Homo sapiens: one gene and its partners. The protein of the gene in region 1 purifies or fractionates together with the protein of each later gene. This does not show direct contact. Each region holds a gene or a part of one and is shown in the gene's direction. Other genes may lie near its edges.

Region 1 (3,750 bases):
CAGATTTAAGTGGTAAAAATCAAAGACTTTGTTGTAAATTTTTTTTTTTTTGGAGACAGAGTCTCACTCTTCTTGCCTAGGCTGGAGTACAGTGGCACGATCTCGGCTTACTACAACTTCCACCTCCTGGGTTCAAGCAATTCTCCTGCCTCAGCCTCCTGGATAGCTGGGATTACAGGCGCCTGCCACCACGCCTGGGCTAATTGTTGTACATTTTTAATAGAGACAGGATTTCACCATGTTGGCCAGGCTGGTCTCAAACTCCTGACCTCAGGTGATCTGCCCGCCTTGGCCTCAAAAAGTGCTGGGATTACAGGCGTGAGCCACTGCACCTGGACATAAATCATTATAATAATTGTATGGAATTATTATGAATCACAGCGTCCTGTGTCTACACCCCTTTGTAATGTGACATTGTCACTCTTCTCATAAAAAATTGGAATTTTCCCACTTCTTGAATCTGGGATGGTCTTATGACTTGCTTTGACCAACAGAATATGATGGAGTGATCTTGTACATTTTGGAGTCTAGGCTTTAGGTCTTTGCTTCCACTCTCATCTTCTTAGAATGCTAAGACCACCATGCAGTGGAAAAGCTCCATCTACCAGAAGATGAGAAGCCATGTGGAGAACTAAGACTTCCCAGCCAATAGCCAGCACCAACTGCCAGACACGTAAGTGAGGCCATCTTGAACCCTCCAACCCTAGATGTATTCACGGTTCTCCAGAGAAACAGAACCAATAAGATGTGTGTGTGTGTGTGTGTGTGTGTTTATAAAGATATTTATTTTAAGGACTTGACTCACTTGATTATAGAGCTTCCAAGTCCAAAATCTGCAGGGTGGGTTGGCAGGCTGGAGGCCAGGGAAAAGGTGATGCTACAGTTCAAGTCTGAGAGCCATCTACTGGCAAAATTCCTTCTTGCTCATGGAAGGTCAGTCTTTTGTTCTATTCAGGCCTTCAGTTGATTGGATAAGGCCTACTCACATTATGGAGGGCAATCTGCGTTATTCAAAGTCCCCTGATTTGTTACTCAGAGGTGAGAAAAATCATGGTGTACTAAAGTCACCACAAAAACTTCTGTAGATCATATGGAGAAGCAGGAGAGATGAAGCTGGAGAGCAAAGCAGCAAATCAGCAATTAAAAAAGATGTTTGGAGTTGTTGAGTTTGGAGATGAAAAGTGACAAGATGAATTCTGGATTTTAGACAAAGCAATCCAACGTGTGGATGGAGAGGGATTTGAGAGGAGAAATCAGCTGTTGTCAGTAAGAGTATTTAAATTAGGATACTGGTAACGGGGATGGAGAGACACACGATTATACATGGGAAGTGAGAGCAGAAAGAATTAGGATTATTTCTTGATTTTTTTTTTTTTTTTTTTTTTTTGCTCAGGCAACTGAATAGATGAAGTCATTAATGGAAACCAGGAACACTGAAGAAACAGTGAACAATTAAAGTACTTTGAGTTATCAAAGTGAGATGTCCTGCAGGTAGCTAGACGATACTGGCTGGTAATTCAGGAGAGCTGCTGCGTCCTGTGTAAAAGGAAAAGCAATTCATGGATGGTGGCTAAAGCCAGCTGGCAGGATTTAGGGGATGGGTTAGACCTGCACTTGTTTTGATGGAGAAGAGGCGGGTATAAAGTGGCAGAGTGAGATTACTGTAAAATATCTGCATTCAAAGGGCTAAAAAAAGAGAAATGCTGGAAAGGCTACTTGCTATAAACGCAGCAGGGTAGGTTAAAACAAATTACGAAGCACGGGCGGTGAGGCGCGGTGCTTAAGATTAAGCCCGGCGTGTTTTCGAGTGCACTGATACACAAAAGGGAAAGGGACCCTCCTCACCGGAAGCACAACCTCTGCCCTCTGGGGCATTACACATTCCTCCGCGCCGGAAGAAAGCGTCACGTCGCGTCGCGCCTCGCCCCGCCTCGTTGCGCCTCGCCCCGCCTCGCCCCGTCGGCTTCCCTCAATCCGTACCTCTAGTAAAGAAGAGCTTGTGCCCCTCCCCGACCCCTTACCAAGGGCGAGCTGCGTGGAGTCGTTGGACTGGGCAGAACTTTGGCGGGCAAGGAGACAAACAGCCACACTGTGCTGCCGGGGAAGAGAAGAAGAAGGAAAGGCCAGACACACAGGCGTCGTGCAGCTGCGGAAGGATTCCGTTTCCTGCAGGGGGCGGAGGGATTTGACAGCACGGTAACTTCCGGAAAAGTCCTGAACCTCAGTGGAAAAGCCTTGCAAGAAACAATAACAAACGGGAGGAGGAAGCGATTCTGGGGTTTCTGTGTTGAACGGTTCTTGTCCGCGAAGATGCGCTTCGGCCTCTGTCAGGGGACTTGAACGGGCTTAGTGGGCTTCAGCCAGCTTTTCTCCACCGGTTCCCCACGGGGACCCCCCCCCCCCCCCGGCCGTTGCAATGGCGGGCGTGGGGCCGGGGGGCTACGCGGCGGAGTTCGTGCCACCGCCAGAGTGCCCCGTCTTTGAGCCGAGTTGGGAGGAGTTCACAGATCCGCTCAGCTTTATCGGCCGCATCCGGCCTTTGGCGGAGAAAACCGGCATCTGCAAAATTCGGCCGCCCAAGGTACCTCAGTCTGTGAAGAGAGAGGGGGAGAAGGAAGAATGGGGGAGTCCGTACACTGGGTTTAGCTTTACTTTTCTGATCCTTGTCTCGTTTCATATGTACTCTCTTTTGAGACAACTGGAGCCTGTTTCTGGATGTTTTTGCCTCGGTTTCTTTTGTGGTCTTATGTAGACACGTCTGAAAGCGAGAAAGTGGTGTCTCTTGGGCCTCTTCCGCCTAGAACTTGGGAACTGATACTTTTCTCTCAGCCGTGGGCCTAAAGCCTTTCGTTAGCCGATATGGTGTTTAAAGTACAGTATTATGACGTGACGTATTCTTCCCTCACGTATCCTCATTATGGTTTGATAGTCGGCTATCTCTTTATTCAAGACCTGGTTGGATCAAATATTTGCAGGCCTCATCTCAGGGCTAGGGTTTCTGAAAAGGTTATCTGAGCTCTAGTCTCACCGGATGGTATTACTAGACAAGAACTCCAGACTAATTATTGCCGCAGTGAAAAAGTCTTAGCGGGGAAAGAGAAGGAGCAGCAATAATTCTAAAATTTAGAGGTTTAGGAAAAATTGGTTTATAGTGGAGGTGGAAGGAAATGTTGAAATCTCTTGACGTAGGGAACTCAAGATCAACGATTTTAGAATCACAGTTATTGCAGATAACTAGGTTTGCCTATAAGGTTAATTATAATCTCACCTTTGAGGTAAGGAAAACAGATACTATCCCTTGTGTGGAGGGGATTAATGCCCCAAGAGGTTGAGTGATTACTCAAGGTCAAAGGTGTTTTTCTTTACTCATTAGACCAGTGCTTTTTAAATGATGTTGCTGGACCACTTGCACCAGGGTCAACTGGATGCTTGTTTAAATGCAGATCTCTAGTCTTGTTGTGGAAGTTCTGGAATCTGCTTTTCTAGCAACTAGTCTCAGATGATTCTCATGTAAGTTGAGGTTTTCGAACCATTGCTTTAGTCGTTGCTTGTTAAAGGCATTTTGCTTTATGTTTTGTCTAGTATTAGTAATGATAAAATATTAAGCACTGTTAACCAGTGTTGCTTTTTAAAAAGCATCTGCCGTCACCACTGACTACCACAGAGATAGGCACCGCAGCGTATTAAAAACTTAAATGACAGCGAGGAGGAACTAATTTAACACCTATAGATTGTTTGCTTTAATCTTTG
Region 2 (3,750 bases), on another chromosome or scaffold:
GGTGTGTGTTCCCCAGATATCCTCTCTGGGGCATAGGCTCACCTTACCGGGGGCTGAGGCCTGTGCATCCATAACTGAGCCACCTTTACAAATGAGCTCCCGTGTGGTCATCGCCTCTACGTGCTGCTCAGTGCTTCTGGCTCTAACCTCCCTTCCAGCCCCTCCTCCCTGCCTGCCCTCACTTACTCAAATGCTCTGTATTCCTAGACATATCTTGGCTGATGCTGTTCCCTCCAGATTCTCACTTTCCGCCTGTTGAAATCCTACCCTTTATTCCCCACCAGCCCAGCTCCTCCAAGATGACATACTCCATATGGCAGCGTTTTTCAAACTTGAGTCATTCACATTCATTGTCTTTCCCGTTCTCAAGTCCTGCTTGTATAATTTTTGACTTTTTTTATTTAAAGAATCTTTTTTTTTTTTTTTTTTTTGAGACGGAGTCTCGCCCTGTCACCCAGGCTGGAGTGCAATGGGGCGATTTCGGCTCACTGCAACCTCTGCCTCATGGGTTCAAGCGATTCTCCTGCCTCAGCCTCCCAAGTAGCTGGGATTATAGGCACACACCACCATGCCCGGCTAATTTTTTGTATCTTTAGTAGAGATGGGGTTTCACCATGTTGGCCAGACTGGTTTCGAACTCCTGACTTCGTGATCTGCCCGCCTCGGCCTCCCAAAGTGCTGGGATTACAGGCGTGAGCCACTGCACCCGGCCAAGAATCTCATTCTTTAAAAATAAAATTAAGCTCATTTAAAGCGGGACACAGTAGCACGTCCCGTGTAGTCCCAGCTATTCGGGAGGCTGAAGTGGCTTGCTTGAGCCCAGCCGGGGTGATATAGCAAAACTCTATCTCTTTAAAACATAAAATAAAATAGGCCGGGCACGTTGGCTCACGCCTGTAATTCCAGCACTTTAGGAGGCCAAGGCGGATGGATCATGAGGTCAGGAGTTCAAGACCAGCCTGGGCAAGATGGCGAAACCCCGTCTCTGCTGAAAATAAAAAAAATTAGCTGGGTGCGGTGGCAGGCGCCTGTAATCCCACGTAGTCGGGAGGCTGAGGCAGGAGAATCGCTTGAACTCAGAGGGCGGAGGTTGCAGTGAGCCAAGTTTGTGCCACTGCACTCCACCCTGGGTGACAGAGTGAGAATCCATCTCAATAAATAAATAAAATAAACTCATTTTATTTACTTTTCATTTATTATTATTATTATTTTGAGACGGAGTCTCACCCTGTCACCCAGGCTGGAGTGCAATGGCATGGTCTCGGCTCCCTGCAACCTCCACGTCCCGGGTTCAAGCGATTCTTCTGCCTCAGCCTCTTGAGTAGCTGGGACTACAGGCGCCTGCCACCGCACCCGGCTATTTTTGTATTTTCGGTAGAGACGGGGTTTCACTATGTTGGCCAGGCTGCTCTTGAACTCCTGACCACAAGTGATCCGCCCACCTCAGCCTCCTAAAGTGTTGGGATTACAGGCGTGAGCCACTGCGCCCGGCCTATTAGTAATATTTTTTGAGACGGAGTCTCACTCACTCTTTCTCACAGACCGGAGTGCAGTGGCGCGATCTCGGCTCACTGCAACTTCCGCCTCCTGGGTTCAAGGAATTCTCCTGCCTCAGTTTCCCACCACGTCTGGCTAATTTTTTTGTATTTTTAATAGAGACGGGGTTTCCCCATGTTGGTCAGGCTGGTCTCAAAATCCTGACCTCAAGTGATCCGCCTGCCTCAGCCTCCCGAAGTGCTGGGATTACAGGCGTGAGCCACCGTGCTTGGCCTCATTTTTTTAGTAAAAAAATTTCCCCTGAAAAAAGCATCTGCAAGTATAAACTCATTTTAGACTTGAACACCACCCAATAAGAACAGTAGCACACAGTATACATAAAAGCTGGTGATAGGAATAAATCCAATCAAAACCAAAGCAATGCTACTCAATCCTAGATCAGTACCATTGCGTTGGGGGAAGGTTCTGGCCTTGGGGCAGAATTTGTTTTCCTGGTATTGTCCTGGCTATCAGTACCGCCTTCAAACTTTGTCCTGGAGGGAATCAGAAGAGATGAAAAGAATACTTTTCTTTCTGGGTGACTGAGTGTTACTGCTTTGGCCATTGGGAGGCCATCTGGCTCTTTGGAGGTATTGCTTTCTACGTTCCCTAGCCAAAGAATTGCTCTTCCTGTCTGGATTGACTTCCGCTGGGCCCTTCTCAAGGTGCCGACTAGATTTTAACTTTGCGAAAAGGGCGTGAACATTGAATCTGTTCGCCCACCGCATTGTCCACTAGGTGTAGGGGAGCTTGAGCGCAGGAGCCGGGTCTTGTTTGCCTCATTCTCCCCTAGAGGTCTTGACTTGTATCTCAGATGTGGGCCGGCGCTCAGTAAAGGAGGCCGCTGCTCGCGGAGATGGAAGACGCCGCAGAAGTGGCCTCAGCGTTAGGTGAGAATGTACTCCTCCAGCGCGGTGTGCTTGGCACGTCGAATTGGTTCGGCATTCCTGGCTTTCATAGGTTTTACCCAGAACTTGGTGGCGTCAAGACCGTGCAGGTGAACCTGAGTGAAATCCGGTTTTTGTTTGTTTTTTCTTCATGCATTGGCTAGTTGTAGGTAAAACTCCACCATCCACGACGGTGGGCAGCCATTCTCCCCCGGAAACACCGGTGCTCACCCGCTCTTCCGCCCAAACTTCCGCGGCTGGCGCCACAGCCACCACCAGCACGTCCTCCACGGTCACCGTCACGGCCCCGGCCCCCGCCGCCACAGGAAGCCCAGTGAAAAAGCAGAGGCCGCTTTTACCGAAGGAGACTGCCCCGGCCGTGCAGCGGGTCGTGTGGAACTCATCAAGTAAGTTTCAAACGTCCTCCCAAAAGTGGCACATGCAGAAGATGCAGCGTCAGCAGCAGCAGCAGCAGCAGCAAAACCAGCAGCAGCAGCCTCAGTCTTCCCAGGGGACGAGATATCAGACCAGACAGGCTGTGAAAGGTACCGAGCCTCCCCTTCTGTTCTCCGTGGCGCCCGCTCCCATTTTGCCACATCGACAGGAGAAAGTCATTGCTCTTTTATTTTTTTTTTTTAGTTCTCGTTTGTTTCCGGGCCATTGTATCTTGAAGGCCTTGCACATTCCATTTGGCATTATTTTTAAAAATTGTTTTGCTACTTGCTTTTTTACTTTCAAAAAGTTTTTTTTGTTCATTTTATAAATGATACATGCATATATTCTCCTTAAAAAGGGGGCAGAAAGTTTTACATAAAAGTCTGTTATCCCGTTTACCTTCCATTTCATTCTCTTCCCTTCCACAGTGGCCAGTATCAACCGTTGTAAAAGCTTTTCTATGCATGTATGCATGTATATGTATATATACATATCTGTATGTATATATGTGCGCATCATGTATATGATGCCATAAAATTAGTCCTTTTTCCCCCCTTTTTTTCTTTTTTAAAACATAAAAATGGTACCATACTTGCTTTTTTCCCCCACCCATCAGCATGTTTTGGAGGTCCATCCACATCAGCACATACAGCCCTGCCTTGTTCTTTTGGACTGCTGCATAGTATTTCATAGTTTATTTAAAGCATTCCTCTACTAATGGGCATTTAGGTTGCTTTCAGTTTTTTTTCTACTGTGAGCAGTGCTGCAATGAATATCTTTGTATAAATTTCCTTGTGCACATGAGGGAACCTCTTGGAGTTATTTTGGAAAAAGTACAGTGCGAGAAGTTGATAGCGAAGGTTACCTTAGTAACTGGAGATTCGTCACACAC
Region 3 (3,750 bases), on another chromosome or scaffold:
CAGAAGGTTGTCCTTTGTCTCAGCAATTTTTAAGCTAATAGTAGCAGAAATTGCAGTGGAAATAGACTGCTTTGCCACAACATTCAGAAAATCATTTATCTTTTTATTGCAGTTCTTGTCACCAAACAATACATTTTAGTACTTCTCAAATTGCAGAACTCTCATAGGGCTGGGAAAATGCCTGTAGACACATACATACTATGAATGTGCTAATGTTTTTTGTATTTTCATAGCCCATCAAAGCTCCTGAGTCAGTTTCCACTATAATCACTGCAGAATCAATCTTCTACAAGGTAAGCTTTTGTAGAGTTACTGAAGGAAGAGTTGGGCCTAGTGGGTAATGTGCCACTAAAATGTTGGATTAGTCTAAAGGTCTCTGCTACTCTTTATTTGTATAAGGTGTGATTATACTTTTTGTTCCCTTCTTAGCTGTTTTCCCCCATAAGTGGCTGTTATTAAAACATCTCATCTAGAGCTGAAGTGGGAGGAGAAAGTGCCTACTGACACATGATGTGAGGATCTTAAGTATTTTTTTTTAGTGTAGATTGTAGGAATTATTCTTAAAATGCTGATTGTATAGTGTGGAGCCATGGAAGACTGAGCCGTTAGTGCGATGGCATTGAAGAATGAGAAGGACAGAGACAGGATTTGGACTAGTAGAGGTTGTCGACTGTGGTGTCAAATGGGTAGAGTAGGCCCAGAGATTCTAAAATGCCTTTAAGTGGAGTTGAGCTGAGTAAGGGCAGTAGTGAGGATTAACACCTACTAGAAATTCATAGTGAGAGGAATTCCAAGATGTTTTGATAAAAGAATGAGGAGGTCAGGTTTCCCAGGGCCAAAGTCCATGAACATCTGATACCTCAGTGAGAGAAGTGACAGATTGTTGTGTTTAAACCAGAAGTCTTAGGAAAGGAATTAGAACATAGACCCCCAAGGCTCGGCAGGCCTGGCACGGCACAGGCAGCAACCATTGAAGGCTATTTGGTGTTTCGGGATCTGAACTGTCATTTAGGGGACAGTGGTGTGAGTTAGTACTTTATACTTGACCCAGGTGGACTGAGAAACTCAAGTGATGATGCCCTTAAGTATACTTTTTTTTAAGCCCACAATCTATATAGTCGAAGTCTGTTCCTCCCAACAGGGGTACACTGGCATTCCTCAGCAGGGCTGGGAAAAACCAACAACAAAAAAAGTCTGTACACAGGCAAACATCTCTCTTATTTTTCCAACATTTAATACATTGTTAATAAAATATCTAAAGTTTAGCAAACAGTTGCTGTGTATCAGTGGCTGAGCATTTTGCATGCTTTATTTCATTCAGTTCACTCTATGAGGTGGATACTACTATCCCCATTTTCTAGATGAGAACATTGAGGCACAGCGAGGTTAATTAACTTGTCCAAGATCACATAGCCAACAAGTCATGGAGTGAGGCAGTCTCATGCCAGAGCTTAAGCCTAGAGCATAGTTCCTGGCTCTACAGCTTTAGCAAGTGACTGGCTATGTGACGAGGACCAACCTCTCTAATGTCTCATCTGTAAAATAGGAATTGTAAATAGTTACTACCTCAGTGGGTCAAATGAAATCATATGTGTTAAGCACTTAGCAGAGTAAGCACTCAATGAATAGTAGGAGTTATCACATCTTCGTATTTGTGCATTACCTTCACAGTTTACAGATTAAGGCCAGAAGCAACTTGTTGAGCTACGGGTTTAGTGTACTAACAGTTTCCATGTGTGTCTCCATGGAAGGGTGTGTGGGACCTGTTATTGTGACTGTCTGTACTTTCGTATTGTTGTCTGCCACCCATGTTTATTAAATGATAAGGACAATAATGCAACAAAGTAGTCAAGTAATGTTGCAAATGCCCAGTATTGTAGTGGCTATCACAGCAGTGCCACTGGCAGGCAGCACCATGGTGGCAAGTTCAAGAGGTCACTGCCAGCCACTGAGCTAGAGCCCAGATCAGGCATGCAAGAGGAGCCTGAGTGGGAGCCACTGGGGATCACGGCCAAGAGTGTGACCACCCAAGACCCAGAATGGCTGAGTGGCCTCCCTGGAGCATGGCAGTGGCAGAACAACTCCATGAACTCAGATCTGGTGATGCCTAAACTAGTGCTGTTCTCGTGTGGACCCCTTTTCTCTACCAGAAACCTTGAATCCTCTCAGCAAATGAGGAGACTACTCAGATCAGTGACTTAGTCCTGTTTGGTGTTATATATGTGTACACAACACAGCACATATTAATAAATACCTACTATGTGCCAGGCACTGCCTACCACTGGAATCTTTCACTAAGACATTGTTTTTACTTTGCATTTCTGCCTTTACACTATGAAAGTAGATGTTTTGGATTCATATTCATTCAGCATACATTTGAATATGCTGTGTTATGCATAGTAAGCCTATGATAAGCAAGTATTCTCATTTAGAATTTGGGAATATTGATTATACATGTGGACAAACAAACCATAAATGCAAACTATTTATATGATAAATAACTTTGGACTGATGGCTGGGAGGAAGGACCAGCTATTGATGGGTAGGAACTAGCAAGTAGCGGACTGTGGCCTGCATAGACCAGACCCATCCGTAGTGATCCAGATGAAACAGCCACCCTCAGACACTTGGATAAAGGGTCCACCAGGAAAAAACTCCTGGCCTATCAGGTGCTATGTTACAGTTCAGTTACTGGAAGTATTTCCTCAAAAGTGTTTTTATGGTTGAGGTACACATTCCTACAGCTTTACCTGCTGCCAAGTCCCTGTTTCAAGGGAAGCAGCAATGAATTACACTGTTCCCGTAGTCAAGGACAGTATATCTTACCAAGAACTATACCCACTTAAGGAGGTGCTGGATGTCATAAAGATTTGGATCAACCATTATGGGTGTTCAGAGGAGAGATTATTTCCAGCTCAAGACCCAGGGAAGAGGACATAGGATGGATACCAGAGTCATAGGGAGGATTTAACACAGGACATGTACACATTAGTTAGTTGGGTATAAAGTGGAACAGAAATGAATGAGACACAAAGCCTTGAATGCCAGAAATACTAGTAGTCCTGTTGTGGAAGGATATAAAACTCAACTGGGAGTGGAAGAGAAAGGCAGCAGTGAGTCTAGGAGATGTACAGTAGGTTGAGGTAAACATATCCTGAAGACTATAATCCAAAGATTATTTTTGGTTTGAATTTGTTTTGGTTTGAATTCATGGTATCTATTTTCTTTGAGTGGATGGTTGGGGAGGGTGGCATGTAGAATGCATTCTTACCAAATCAGCATGATTTTCAAGACAGTACAGAGAAAAGACTGCTGAGCTGATGTAGGAGCTTTGGCTGCAGTCTCTATGGCTTTCAGCAAGCCGTTTAACCTTACTACTGCTTCATGACTGTGGCTAACAAAGTAGGGATAGTACGGAGCACAGAGGATTTTTAGGGCGGTGAAACTATTAATACTCTCTTTGTATGATACTATAATGGTGGGTACATGTCATTATACATTTGCCCAACCCCACAGAATACACAGCACCAAGAGTGAACCCTAATGTGAACTCTGGTCTTTGATGATGCTATGTCAGTGTACGTTCATCCGTGTAACAAGTGTACCACTCTAGTGGTGGGAGGGGTTATTGATAATAGGGGAGGATGTGCATGTGTGGGGGCAGGAAGTATATGGGAAATCTCTCTACTTCTGCTCAATTTTGCTGTAAACCTAAAACCTCTGTAAAAAATAAAGTCTATTTTTTAAAAA

The links.
Region 2: the proteins of KDM5A (region 1) and ZMYND8 purify together in Homo sapiens (affinity purification with mass spectrometry; 3 studies listed by BioGRID and IntAct, with this or other methods). This does not show direct contact.
Region 3: the proteins of KDM5A (region 1) and GATAD1 purify together in Homo sapiens (affinity purification with mass spectrometry; 6 studies listed by BioGRID and IntAct, with this or other methods). This does not show direct contact.

The regions. Positions count from the first base shown.
Region 1 is NC_000012.12:387,758-391,507, reverse strand, and holds the start of KDM5A (lysine-specific demethylase 5A), read left to right. Parts: upstream 1-2,187; 5' UTR 2,188-2,416; coding exon 2,417-2,581; intron 2,582-3,750. UniProt on the Homo sapiens protein: Histone demethylase that specifically demethylates 'Lys-4' of histone H3, thereby playing a central role in histone code. Does not demethylate histone H3 'Lys-9', H3 'Lys-27', H3 'Lys-36', H3 'Lys-79' or H4 'Lys-20'.
Region 2 is NC_000020.11:47,237,976-47,241,725, reverse strand, and holds part of ZMYND8 (MYND-type zinc finger-containing chromatin reader ZMYND8), read left to right. Parts: intron 1-2,587; coding exon 2,588-2,968; intron 2,969-3,750. UniProt on the Homo sapiens protein: Chromatin reader that recognizes dual histone modifications such as histone H3.1 dimethylated at 'Lys-36' and histone H4 acetylated at 'Lys-16' (H3.1K36me2-H4K16ac) and histone H3 methylated at 'Lys-4' and histone H4 acetylated at 'Lys-14' (H3K4me1-H3K14ac).
Region 3 is NC_000007.14:92,450,468-92,454,217, forward strand, and holds part of GATAD1 (GATA zinc finger domain-containing protein 1), read left to right. Parts: exon of another isoform or gene 1-233; coding exon 234-293; intron 294-3,750. UniProt on the Homo sapiens protein: Component of some chromatin complex recruited to chromatin sites methylated 'Lys-4' of histone H3 (H3K4me), with a preference for trimethylated form (H3K4me3).